Regions from separate parts of the Homo sapiens genome. Here region 1 is linked to region 2. Evidence: fine-mapped expression QTL. Tissue or cell type: testis. Region 2 holds a variant in brackets; the other region holds the start of a gene. All regions are shown on one strand. Distances are from middle to middle.

Region 1 (5,387 bases), 320 kb after region 2:
CATATATGAGCAATTTCTACTCTGTGAAGCCAGCGCTGTGTCCTGAGCTGGATCATGGCCAGAAACAGAAAAGTCTACTCTTCCCTACAGTGGAAGCAACTGTGGATATTTCATCCTAGGAGTGAATGAAAAAACCTAAAGCTCATACTTCATGGGAATCTTTCAATATTCTGACTGAAAACTGGTTATTTGCTCCTCCAACCCAAAGCCATCTAGGAACAGCACTCAGAACAGGAAAAAAAAAAGACAAAAATAATAATTATTCCAAAACGTATTTGAGCAGAAACAAACACAAACATTTGCATTATTAAATGGGCTTGTTCACACCTGCTGAGTAGATATAAGACGATATTTAAGACAAGAGCTAAAAAATAAACCATCCCTTTCTGGTTTTGAGTGACAGCAGAGCAATAAAAATTATTTTCACATTCTTTTCCCTATTGTTAGAAGTAATCATTTGAGTAAATACACTTATCTGTGCTGTAACTATTGAAATGAATCCACTTCAAATATGTATACCACCTTTCTTTTTTATATTTCTAGATATGGTTTCAATATAGACTTTCTGACTTTTATGGTATACATATAGGACAATATTCTATTCTTCTTTCCTTTTAAATACTTACTGTTTCAATTTCAAATAAAAAATCAGCATTCTAGTTTGTACATTTTAGCACAGAAATGTTTACAACCTTCAGCACAATTGCTTTTGTAATTTACTGACTTGGCATTTTGAGGCGTTTTTAACAAATTATGAGAAATAACACCTTCAGAAAGCATGTGACTACTTTGATGCAACTATTTACAATGTATTCATAAGAAGTCATTAACCTGTAGAGTTCTTAGACATGTGGAACCTTTAACAATTATACTAAAGAGTACATACAAAATACAGAGCTATGTAATAATAACTAATTTTAAATCCTGACAAATTAGAAGTTAAGCCTACTATCTGTAAAAATATGTCCTGATTCATTTTTTTAAGTATATACCTGAGCCTTTAAAAAGTATATGCCTTTACAATTGATTTCCAATAAACAATACTGAATAACAAACTACAAGTGACTTTCCTGATTTTTTCACCAGAAATATATAGAAAAAGGAAATCCTATTCTTATTAGAGATTGAAGTACAGTAATTCTGCACGGTATTAAGAACCATAACTATGCCATACAGAAGACAGGACCTGCAACCTAAGAAAAGTTTTATTAAACAGGACAAGACAGTGATCAGGGGCTCAAGTTTTATTTCAATATGCAAAAGTCATCTATTGTAACAGATATTTATTTCATTCCCTACACCACAATTATTTTAGCTATATTTGATATATTTGCTCGTCAGTGAGTACTTACATTGAAACAGGTATTAAGAGTATATAAAATCAGTTTATATATTTTCTCCTGCCTAGAGACTTCACTTTATATATGCTTATAGAACAAAAATTAACTTGAAAGTTTTAAAAAATATTTCTCTGTCGAAGCAAATATCTACTTCTTTTAAAATAGTGTGAGCCTGTGAAAACATGGTATTATGTATTTGACATTTTCCATCTAAAAATACATTATGAAGCAAGCATGCTGGTATTAATAAACCATGTGCTTTCAGAACCCTGAAGTGCTTTTCTATAATTTTGTTGAAAACAGAATAAGATGATATATTTTCCACCATGCTATTAACATAAAGCAAACAAATTTTATGTCATTGCCTTGCCAGCTTGTCTTGATTGGAAAGTGTACAAAAAAAAAAACTTTTAGGAGTTTATAAATATTCGTGACCATAGTCTGGTTTATGAGTTAACAATCCATAAGTAAACATAGATAACTTAGAAAAATTTAGTCAAAAATACATTACAAAAAAGAAAAGAAACCATGTATATTTCCTTTTTCCTTACCCCACCCCCATCATAGTCAGAAAAATCACCCTCCCTTTGCAGGAGGGTACTATCCTTCCTTCCACCACTTTAGTTATCTGAAGGCAAATGAAAATACAATGATCCTTTTCGTTTTCTGATTTAGCTTACAACGCAAACATTTTAACACAAACATAAACTACTGACTTCACGGAAAGCACCAAACAGAAAGAGCAAGATTCACTGACCCATTTGGAAGACAAAGACGACAGAGCGGGAAAGCTCTAAAAATCAGCTTGTGAGGCCTCTGAGAGATATTCTTCTGGCATTTCATCACAGCAGCCCCAGACCAGCTCACCTCCCTAGATACAAGGAGGAGGCACTAAATGGAGCTGTTTATTAAAGCTGCTGTGCTGGATTGCATTAGGAAGCGCGAGCAGACCACCTGGACCTTTCAAGATTGTGACAGTGTTTAATTTGCAGCCTGCCCTTCTGCAGCAGCCAAGACTACTACTACATTTACCGGGCTCAATCACACATTATCTGGGTTAGAAGTCAAGGCACATGTATTTATATATTTATATTTCCCATATGGAGAAAGGGAGAGAGGGAGAGAAAGAGAGAAGGAGAGAGCACAGTCAAAATAAAAATATTGAACAGCATTAGAAAAATATTAACTACTACCTAGGAAACCACACTTGATTCTCTTCTCGCACTTTCTTTCAGAGATCAAAATCCAAAAAGAAAGCAAATTTCTAAAATAGATTTTTAAGAAACATTCAGACCAAATTATAAATTAGATTTATTCTCCAGTGTTTTTGTTGTTGTTTTAGTTTTTGTTTAAAAGGATCGCATTGAAGTTTTAAGCTGAGGTTTCCCTGGTCAGATTTAATGGGTGCCTTTTGCCTTTCGCACTTTCAGCACTACACTGGCAGGTAGCTGAAGATACAGATAGAAAGATGGTACTGTAAATATGAATTATGTGAATCATATGGTGAGACCCTTGTGGAAAAAAGGGGAGTTGAGAAATGGCTGACTCCATACCTGACCAATTACAGCTTGCATGGTCCCCGTGTCCTGCTGCGCTGAGAGATAGCAATCCATCATATGTTGTCTTTGAAAAGGAGAATGGGGGTTTCTGGCATGCATCTGTCAATCAACTTCTGCACTCACAACCATCACCAAAAGCAAGGGGAAAAAAAGTCAAGCTGCTCCACCAAATAGAATGAAACCGTCATGTGACCTCCGGCAGACACGCACACACACATTCACTACCTCCACAGAGCGTAAGAATTTTCTGTAGATATGAAATGACATTGACAAATATCCAATACCAAGTAAATAAAGTGAGACAAACAGCTATTCACCAAAGACAAAAACATGGGCTGTAATCTTCCGCTAAAGGTTTAACAAACCTATGAGGATTGTTTTTAATGCTCTAGAAATCTATGTTTAAAACAAAACAAAAACAAAATGAACTATCTCAAATGAGTGTCCATTAAGACTTTGATTTTTGTGCTATTATATACATTTTTAAAATTACAGTTCATTGCTCTACTTTTCTTAAGGGGTCCCTAATGATTTTATTTTTAAAATCTCTAAATGACCTTTTGATAATATGCAGTTATCTCTGTTGTTTTATATAAGGACACCTTTTCAGAGAAGCTTGAAATGTGAACTGCTACATAACAAACACCCTGATATTTGTGAATTGGAAGTGGACATAGAAAATAATCCGTGTAAATGATGATGACCACTGTAATATAAAATATTCAAAGTGTGTAAATAGCAGTCACTAAACTTTTTATCTTCTGAAAGGTAAGGGATGATTTACTTGCAGCTCATCTAAACTGATGTAATGTGTTTTTAATGTGATGACAAGTATTTTAACTTTCTAAATTTAATTTTAACTATCTGATTCCTCACAATCTAGGGACAGATTGCTAATGCATTATGGGTCAGTTATTGTTAAGGGTGAAAAGAATATAACTTACCAACTTTTTAACCTTCTTAGGCTAAAGATCGGAACCTGACTTTCAAGACAATCCTACAGGTATTGTAAAGTTGCTCTCCAAAAACCCAAACCCATAAACACCATCCGTTAACTTGGTGGCTTTGTGGCAGTGAAGAACATTCGCATTTGCCTACTTTTTTTCTTTTTTTTTTTCATTTGCCTACTTTTTAACTGAAGTTCATTAGTTAGTATACTCTCCCTAACTTTTCAAAACAAATTTATGGGAAAACCTTGTGTTAATATTAAAATGGAGATTTTTTTCAAGGCTCTAAACTGATGACAGGTCGGGTAGCAATGAGAAATATTTAATACAGAATATATACTATTATGTATATTATTGCATAATACCCACGGCTTGAAAATTAATCAAAAGGAACTTCAAGTAAGAAAAAAAAAACAAAACAATTTTCAACATTGTTAAAGAAATCTTTAGGAGCAAAGAATGAAGGACCGAAGCGCGCGCGCACACACACACAAACACACACACACAGACACAGACACACACACAGTTAAATCAGCATCCCCAAATAAAATGAGACCGTGCACCAACTGGGTAGCCCTCCTGGGAGCTGAGGGCTAACTGAGGAAAGGCCCTTCTCAACATCATTAAATGTCCCGTCTGCGCTGAAGTCCTACCCGGGGGTTTCTGCAGTTATCCCAGATCAGAACCTCAGGCTTCCCATCATCTCCTTTGGCCAGGGAAGGGGAGGCCAGGGAAGCCGAGCCTGGAGCATCGACAAGGACTGAGCCAAACTTGCCCGAAACCTGCGGGCTCACAGAGGGCAGGGGGCGCGACTGCTCCTGGCATCGCCTTCTTGGGACCCCGCCTGGGCGGACACTAGACAGAAAGCCAGGTGACGGGACCAGTGGGAAGTTGCGGAGGAGGGGCGAGCTGCAGTCCCAGGCCGCAGCAGCCGCTGAGCAGCCGCCCCCGCTTTCTAATTCTTGGGGGGTTTGCAGCCAAGCCTGGAGCGCACCCCGGCGGCACCGCCCTCCTGGGCGCCCGGGAGCCCCGCGCCCTCCGCCTGCGTCCTCGGACTTAGGCAGCAGAGCCGGTGCGCGGATGGCGTGAGCCCCGGGGTGGTTTTGGCGTCCTGCGTCCTCTGTAGTGCAGCCTGGGTTCCCCACGCGCTGCCACCCGATCGGAGGCTCAACTTCCCCTGGGATCTAAGCTTCTTAAGCGCCTTCCTATGGGGCTGGGGGCTGGGGGTGTGGGTGGAGGTGGGTGGGAGAGGCTGGCCAAGCTGCAGTATGAGGCCGAAGACCTCCTTTGAAGCTCTGTCCCACAAATTATGGTGGTTCCGATTGGCGTAGGGACAACACTCTTTGCTTATATTCCAGTTGTTTACATGACCATCTGGCCTGTATGAATTATAATTATTACTAGCCAGCGTTGATGGGAGGCTGAGCCAGGCACTGTGTCAGACACTTCACAGTATGTTACATGTGAAATAACAACTCAGTGAGGCAGAGATGGTTATTCCCATTTTGCAGATTAGGCTCAAAAAAAAAAAAAAGGTAACA
Region 2 (5,387 bases):
ACTGGCAGGAGGGTGGCTTCCCTGAGGATGAGTTGGTGCCAATGAGGTGGGGAGGAAGGAGGTTCCAGGCAGAGGGAACACCACCAGCACAGACTGTGCAGTGGGAGGGAGTCAGGAGACCTGGGGAAGGAGGCCTTGAGGCTGTGTTTAGGGATTTTGGCTTTTATCCCAAGAGCTACAAGGGTACAAAATGCTAAAATTTGCATTTTGAGAAGATCACGCTGGTTGCAGCGTGGAAAACAGATTGGATGTGAGGAGAGGAAGAGGAGAAGGGATGGTAGCTTATTGAAATGCTATACATGGTAAATGTGAGTATTAGGGCTACAATTAGACTAAGATATTGTATCTTGTTCTCAATGATACTTAGTAGGGAAGGCAAAAATTCAGATTTAAAATTTGTTTGGTAGGGAAAACAGATTAATTAGTTTTAGAGTTCTCATAAATAATTAATTTTAGAGTTTCTGTAATTAATGAGCATCTAATAACTCTTCCATTTTCTCTTGTTCTCACAAAAGATAAAAACCCAGAGAATGTACAGCAGGAATCTATGTAGGAAGACTGGGCTCCACTCTGAAATTATTAACTAGAATACTATAAGCTTAATAGATATCTCTAAGTTTCAATTTCCTTAAATCTATGATGTGACTTTGCTCTCATAAAGCTATTACAGATGACATTTATGTGATAAATGCACTCCCATTAGGGTGCAAAGGTCTGATAACAGCACTAGCTCCTCATTAATTTCTGCTAAAGTGTGAAGGGCTGATAACAGGGAAATGCAGCTTTACAGAGGCAGGTACCAAGATTCCTCAGGTCTAGTCTAGTGTCTGGTACATGTTGTTGATATGAAATAAAACTGGGTTAATTCTCTCAAGTTACTTGTGTTTTGAAAGAATATGTTTAATTATATATTGGAAGAAATTTCTAGTGGATGAATTTTAGACAATTGTCTATGAAGTTTGTAGAAATCATTTTAAGTAGCATTGCCTTCTTGATATCAAGATATAACAACACACAGGACTACTCTATCTAAATACTAGGTTTGAGCTGCCACTCTTCTTTCCCATATCCAACTTCTTTTTTGGAGACGGAGTCTCACTTCTTCTCCTAGGCTGGAGTGTAATGGGGCAATCTTGGCTCACTGCAACCTCCACCTCCCAGGTTCAAGCGATTCTCCTGCCTCAGCCTCCCCAGTAGCTGGGATTATAGGCATGTGCCATCACGCCAGGCTAATTTTTGTATTTTTAGTAGAGACTGGGTTTCACCATGTTGGCCAGGCTGGTCTCAAACTCCTGACCTCAAGTGATCTGCCCGCCTCGGCCTATCAAAGTACTGGGATTACAGGCGTGAGCCACCGCACTGGGCCTCCCCATATCCAACTTCTTATTGTCACGTCACAATTCTCCCATGAGTCCCAAGAAAGCAGTTAGACTGATTTTCGTGTGTTGCTTACAGAACTCAATCACGCATACCCCCTAGGTTTTCATTTTAGGACTCTGATAACTGTGGAAAAGACAATTTGGACTAAATATTTTGAAAAAAAAAAAAGCAAGCAAGCAAGCATTTAAAACAATCTTGCTTAGGACTACCAGAATGCAAACTAAGAAATATAATTTTTTAACCCTAGAGTAGTTCATGGCATGACCGAAAAATGAGAATCTATTCATAATCTGTTTCTCTGAATCCATGAAGTATTGTGGAATTCCTGTTTCATTCGCCAAATGAAATGATCATTCCCCCAGGACCCGCCCCTGATTTCAATGCAGAGTGTCTTTCAACATAAGTCCCAGGCCTGACTCTGAAATGTTCTCATGTTGTGGGCTCAGTCCAGCAAGCATCCCATAAGAGGTCTTCCCTGGGGTCAAATACAAGTCAATCTTGAGGTGGGAGGTGGAATGGCCCAGCCACCCTACACCCATCAGGCTGGATAAACATTAGCCACCCCTGCTGGGAGTGGCACAGGTCCTGCCATCTCTTGGTGATCTGGCTTAACCAAGACTGGCCCATCCCTTTCTTGAGCTCTAGAATGAATCAGGGTGCATTTGGTGGACTTCAATGGTACAGCAACTAGTGAAACAACATTTTGGTCCATAAAATTCAAAGGTAAGATGGACTCTGTTTTATAAAAACATCAACTGAGATAAATTTTGTTTTGTACTTACACACAGTTTGGCTCTTTTGCTACTTCACAGCTCTTTCAGTCTAGATAGGCAGAGGAAACAGTAGCATGTTTTTGTTTTGCTTATCCAAAGTAACTCTTTTTATTTTTCCTTCTCCCCAGTGGATTGTGTAGTATTAGGTTGGCGCAAAAGTAATTGTGGTTTTTGCCATCGCTTTTTGCCATCACTTTTTGATGGCAAAAACCGCAATTACTTTTGCGCCAACCTAATACTATTGTTAGACAAATGAATGCATCTTGTTAACAAATTGGCTGGAAAAACCTACTTCTAATTCCTCTGGCTAACCAGAAACATCAAGTCAGAGTAAAAAATAGAGACAGCTGTTGCCATCATGGTTTCAGGTTTCTGAAGGGACCTTTCTCCCACAGTGAAATGATCTCACTAGACCTGATTCTCATAGTTTGAATACAGGCACTACTTTATTTCCTTTTACTAATCAACTTAACTGGTTATTAGTTTTTACAACTAATAAATGCTATTAACAAATTGCCTCTCAATTTTAATACCAAAAGGGTTTAACTTACTTTTTTTCCTTTTTCCCTTTCAAAGTTTTTCATCCTTTGCTCCAGTCTTGTGCAGACCAAGCTGGACCTCCCCATCCAGTCTTCGCTGATCACTCAGGCCAGGATGGTTTCATGCCTCTCAGTTTCCCCAGGGACAGTGCAATTTCACCTCACCTCACAGGGTTGTAGAAAAAGAGATGTCCTCGTTCATTGGGATGAGAAAGAGTTGGACTTTAAAAACAGTCACGGGTTTCCTTTTTTGGGTTGAGTTAAAATGTGAACTCGGTCTTCAGGTGCTGCTGATTTGGTACCACATTTAGGTTTTATGCAAAGCTGACCCAAAGACTTGGCCCACTCCACCCTCCCTTGTCACCGGGGTTCACACACAGTCCAGTGAACGGGCCACCCATCCTTAA[C/G]AGGAAGTGGGCCTGCTTCCCTCGGCTATCACGTGGTCTGAAGCGATAATGGTTCTAGGTAGATCCGAAAGGAAAGCCAAAGGAAGAGCCGGACAACAAAAAGGAATGAAGAAAGGAAAATAAATTCAAGGGGAGTAACGACGGGCCCCAAGCGGCCTTATTATATGAATAGACTGCAGATAACTACATCTTTCTACCGCAGCGCTTCATAAATTCTGTCATCTTGTTAGGATTGTCAGAAGCACACTGACCTCACTTCCTCCATTAACGAGCTCGCCCTATTTTGAGGGGAGATTCTTTATGAACACACAGCCCGGAAACACCTCATAAACAGCTTGTCAGCCTTGTAATTCTGGAAGTAACGAATTCCATGCCAAGGAGAGGGAGGGTGGCCCCCCAGAAGCCAGCTGACCCGCAGCAGAGAGGAGCCTGGCACCGTCGGGGCCGGGCAGAGGCAGGCGCACAGCTGGCTTTGTGAAGCGGCTAACAGCAAAGTGTAATCCCTGCTTACCGAGAAAGGTGTCAGAGCTAGATTGGTGGCTTTTCACGCAATCACTAGGTTCTTTTTATTTGCCTGGATGCTTTCTCTTTTTGGTAAGACAGAGGCGGCCAGAGCCCAAGCAAGATTCGGGGTTTGGAAGGGAGGTACGAAACGGCTCATTTGCGCACAGCCTACTCTGATGTTTTCTTTTTTGGTTTTGAGAGCCACTGCAAGACCCCAGCCATCCCTGCAGCCCCCCAACCCAATTATCTTCTTTGAGGCTAGATGAGGAAAACAGCTTAACGTTCCCAGTGATCCAGGATGGATTGAATGGTCAAAAATTGCATTCCGCTTCTATGAGACTGAGTTTTTGCTGAAGTCTCCAGTACAGTCATGAAAAGATTCTCGACTCTATAAAGGCAAGAAAAACTCCCCATGGTCAGCTTATGTACAGGGCAAGCTCCATAAAGTTGCTCTTGCTGACTAGCCTCAGTTTTAGTGTCTTGAGACAAACCGCATCAAATTATATATAAAAACAATGCATCCCAAATGCCAACGAAGACCTTATCTCTTATTCCTAAGGTGTTTCCTCTCGCTCCCCAGTGAGCTACTTTTCACCCCTGTTGATTTACGCTCTGTTGGTGGACACAAAGATGGGCCGAGCACAAACTGTTTAGTGCTTGCATTGGTGCCTTGAACAGATAATGAAAACAGCTCAGTGGCCAGGACTCCCTGCCCTTTCTTTCCCATAATGATGGCACCAAAACCCTTCACAATGAACATGGTAATCAGAGCCCGTGGACGGGGAATGGATTCATCAAAATTCACTGGATGCATTTTAGAGAGGGTGGAGGTGGGGAGCAGAGAGGCAGACAGGAAGATGAGCTCGGGACTCACCCCCACTCTTATAGGTTTCACATCTAGCCCGGCGCCGGGTGGAAGGTGTGTAGGGTCATCAGTTATTTCCAGTTGCTATTTTGGTCAGCCACATAAAAAATATCCCTGACAATTCTGAATTGCATGTATAAACCATTTTATGGCTGTTGGTCTTGTTGCTCTCTCCTCTCCTTCTCAGTTTTTTTCCCCCTTCTGAGTATCCCATATTTCCTCCTCTCTGCTATATCCAACATAAACATTTATCTTCTTGGACCATGTATTAAAAAAAAAAAAAAAGGTAAAGGGAATAGTAAAAATACAGAGTCAAATGTGAGTGGCAGAGCTATAATTCTTTATGAAGTAGCAGGTAAGATTGATTGTCAAGGGTCAAAAGGCTAGGTCAAACTCCGCTCATTCGTCAGCTGAATGTCATTTTTGTTTTCCCTGTCACCAGATAGCTTTAAAAAAAATTGCAACTCCTTCCTCATTATCTGGGACTTGGCTCCTTTTCTGCCATCCGGTATTAATGAAACCGTGCTTCAAGCCTAGCCCTCATCTTCTGAGGTTCTTCTTCATGTGCTGCCTCTCTCTCTAAAGCACTGCAGAGAGAGCACTGTTTCAAAGGCCATTTTCTCCTGCAGCCACGTTGGGAAATTGCCACTAGAGTGAGAATGATTTGGAAACACACACGAGGTATAAATGTTTGAATGAACAAAAATGTAATTAAATCATAGCCGGTCTAAAGCTTGTGATCCAGTGTAATTGGATGGTGGCAATATCTTTGCATCTCATAAAGAGCAAAACAAGATGAGATGTAATATCTGGAAGCCATCTAAAATTATGTGTCATAAATAAAGAGAAAAATTTTCCTCTTATAATTATAGCAGGTCACAACAACATAATGCAAAACCTGAAATAATGCATTGGCATC

Direction of the effects. Alleles are on the strand shown, and positions count from the first base shown. SD is a standard deviation of normalised expression in the study named.
As copies of C replace G in region 2, the expression in testis of the gene that starts at base 3,043 in region 1 goes up (moderate effect, 0.63 SD a copy in GTEx).

Evidence for each region. PIP is the estimated chance that this variant, and not a neighbour inherited with it, causes the effect. A credible set is the group of variants that fine-mapping cannot tell apart.
Region 1: POU6F2 starts here. The variant in region 2 is the best candidate, but not a certain one, in a credible set for the expression of POU6F2 in testis (GTEx, PIP 0.64).

What each region holds. Positions count from the first base shown.
Region 1 is chr7:38,975,565-38,980,951 of GRCh38, reverse strand. POU6F2 (POU class 6 homeobox 2) reads right to left here and starts at 3,043. Exons shown (of 10, transcript NM_001370959.1): 1 at 2,894-3,043. The coding sequence starts at 2,998. It overlaps POU6F2-AS2 (POU6F2 antisense RNA 2), which reads left to right. Exons shown (of 7, transcript NR_138047.1): 7 at 1-1,057.
Region 2 is chr7:39,291,313-39,296,699 of GRCh38, reverse strand. The region is part of intron 4 of POU6F2 (POU class 6 homeobox 2); the gene reads right to left. Among named protein-coding and RNA genes, the nearest start is that of SNORA20B, 35 kb to the left of the region's middle. The variant C/G (reference allele first, on the strand shown) is at 3,100.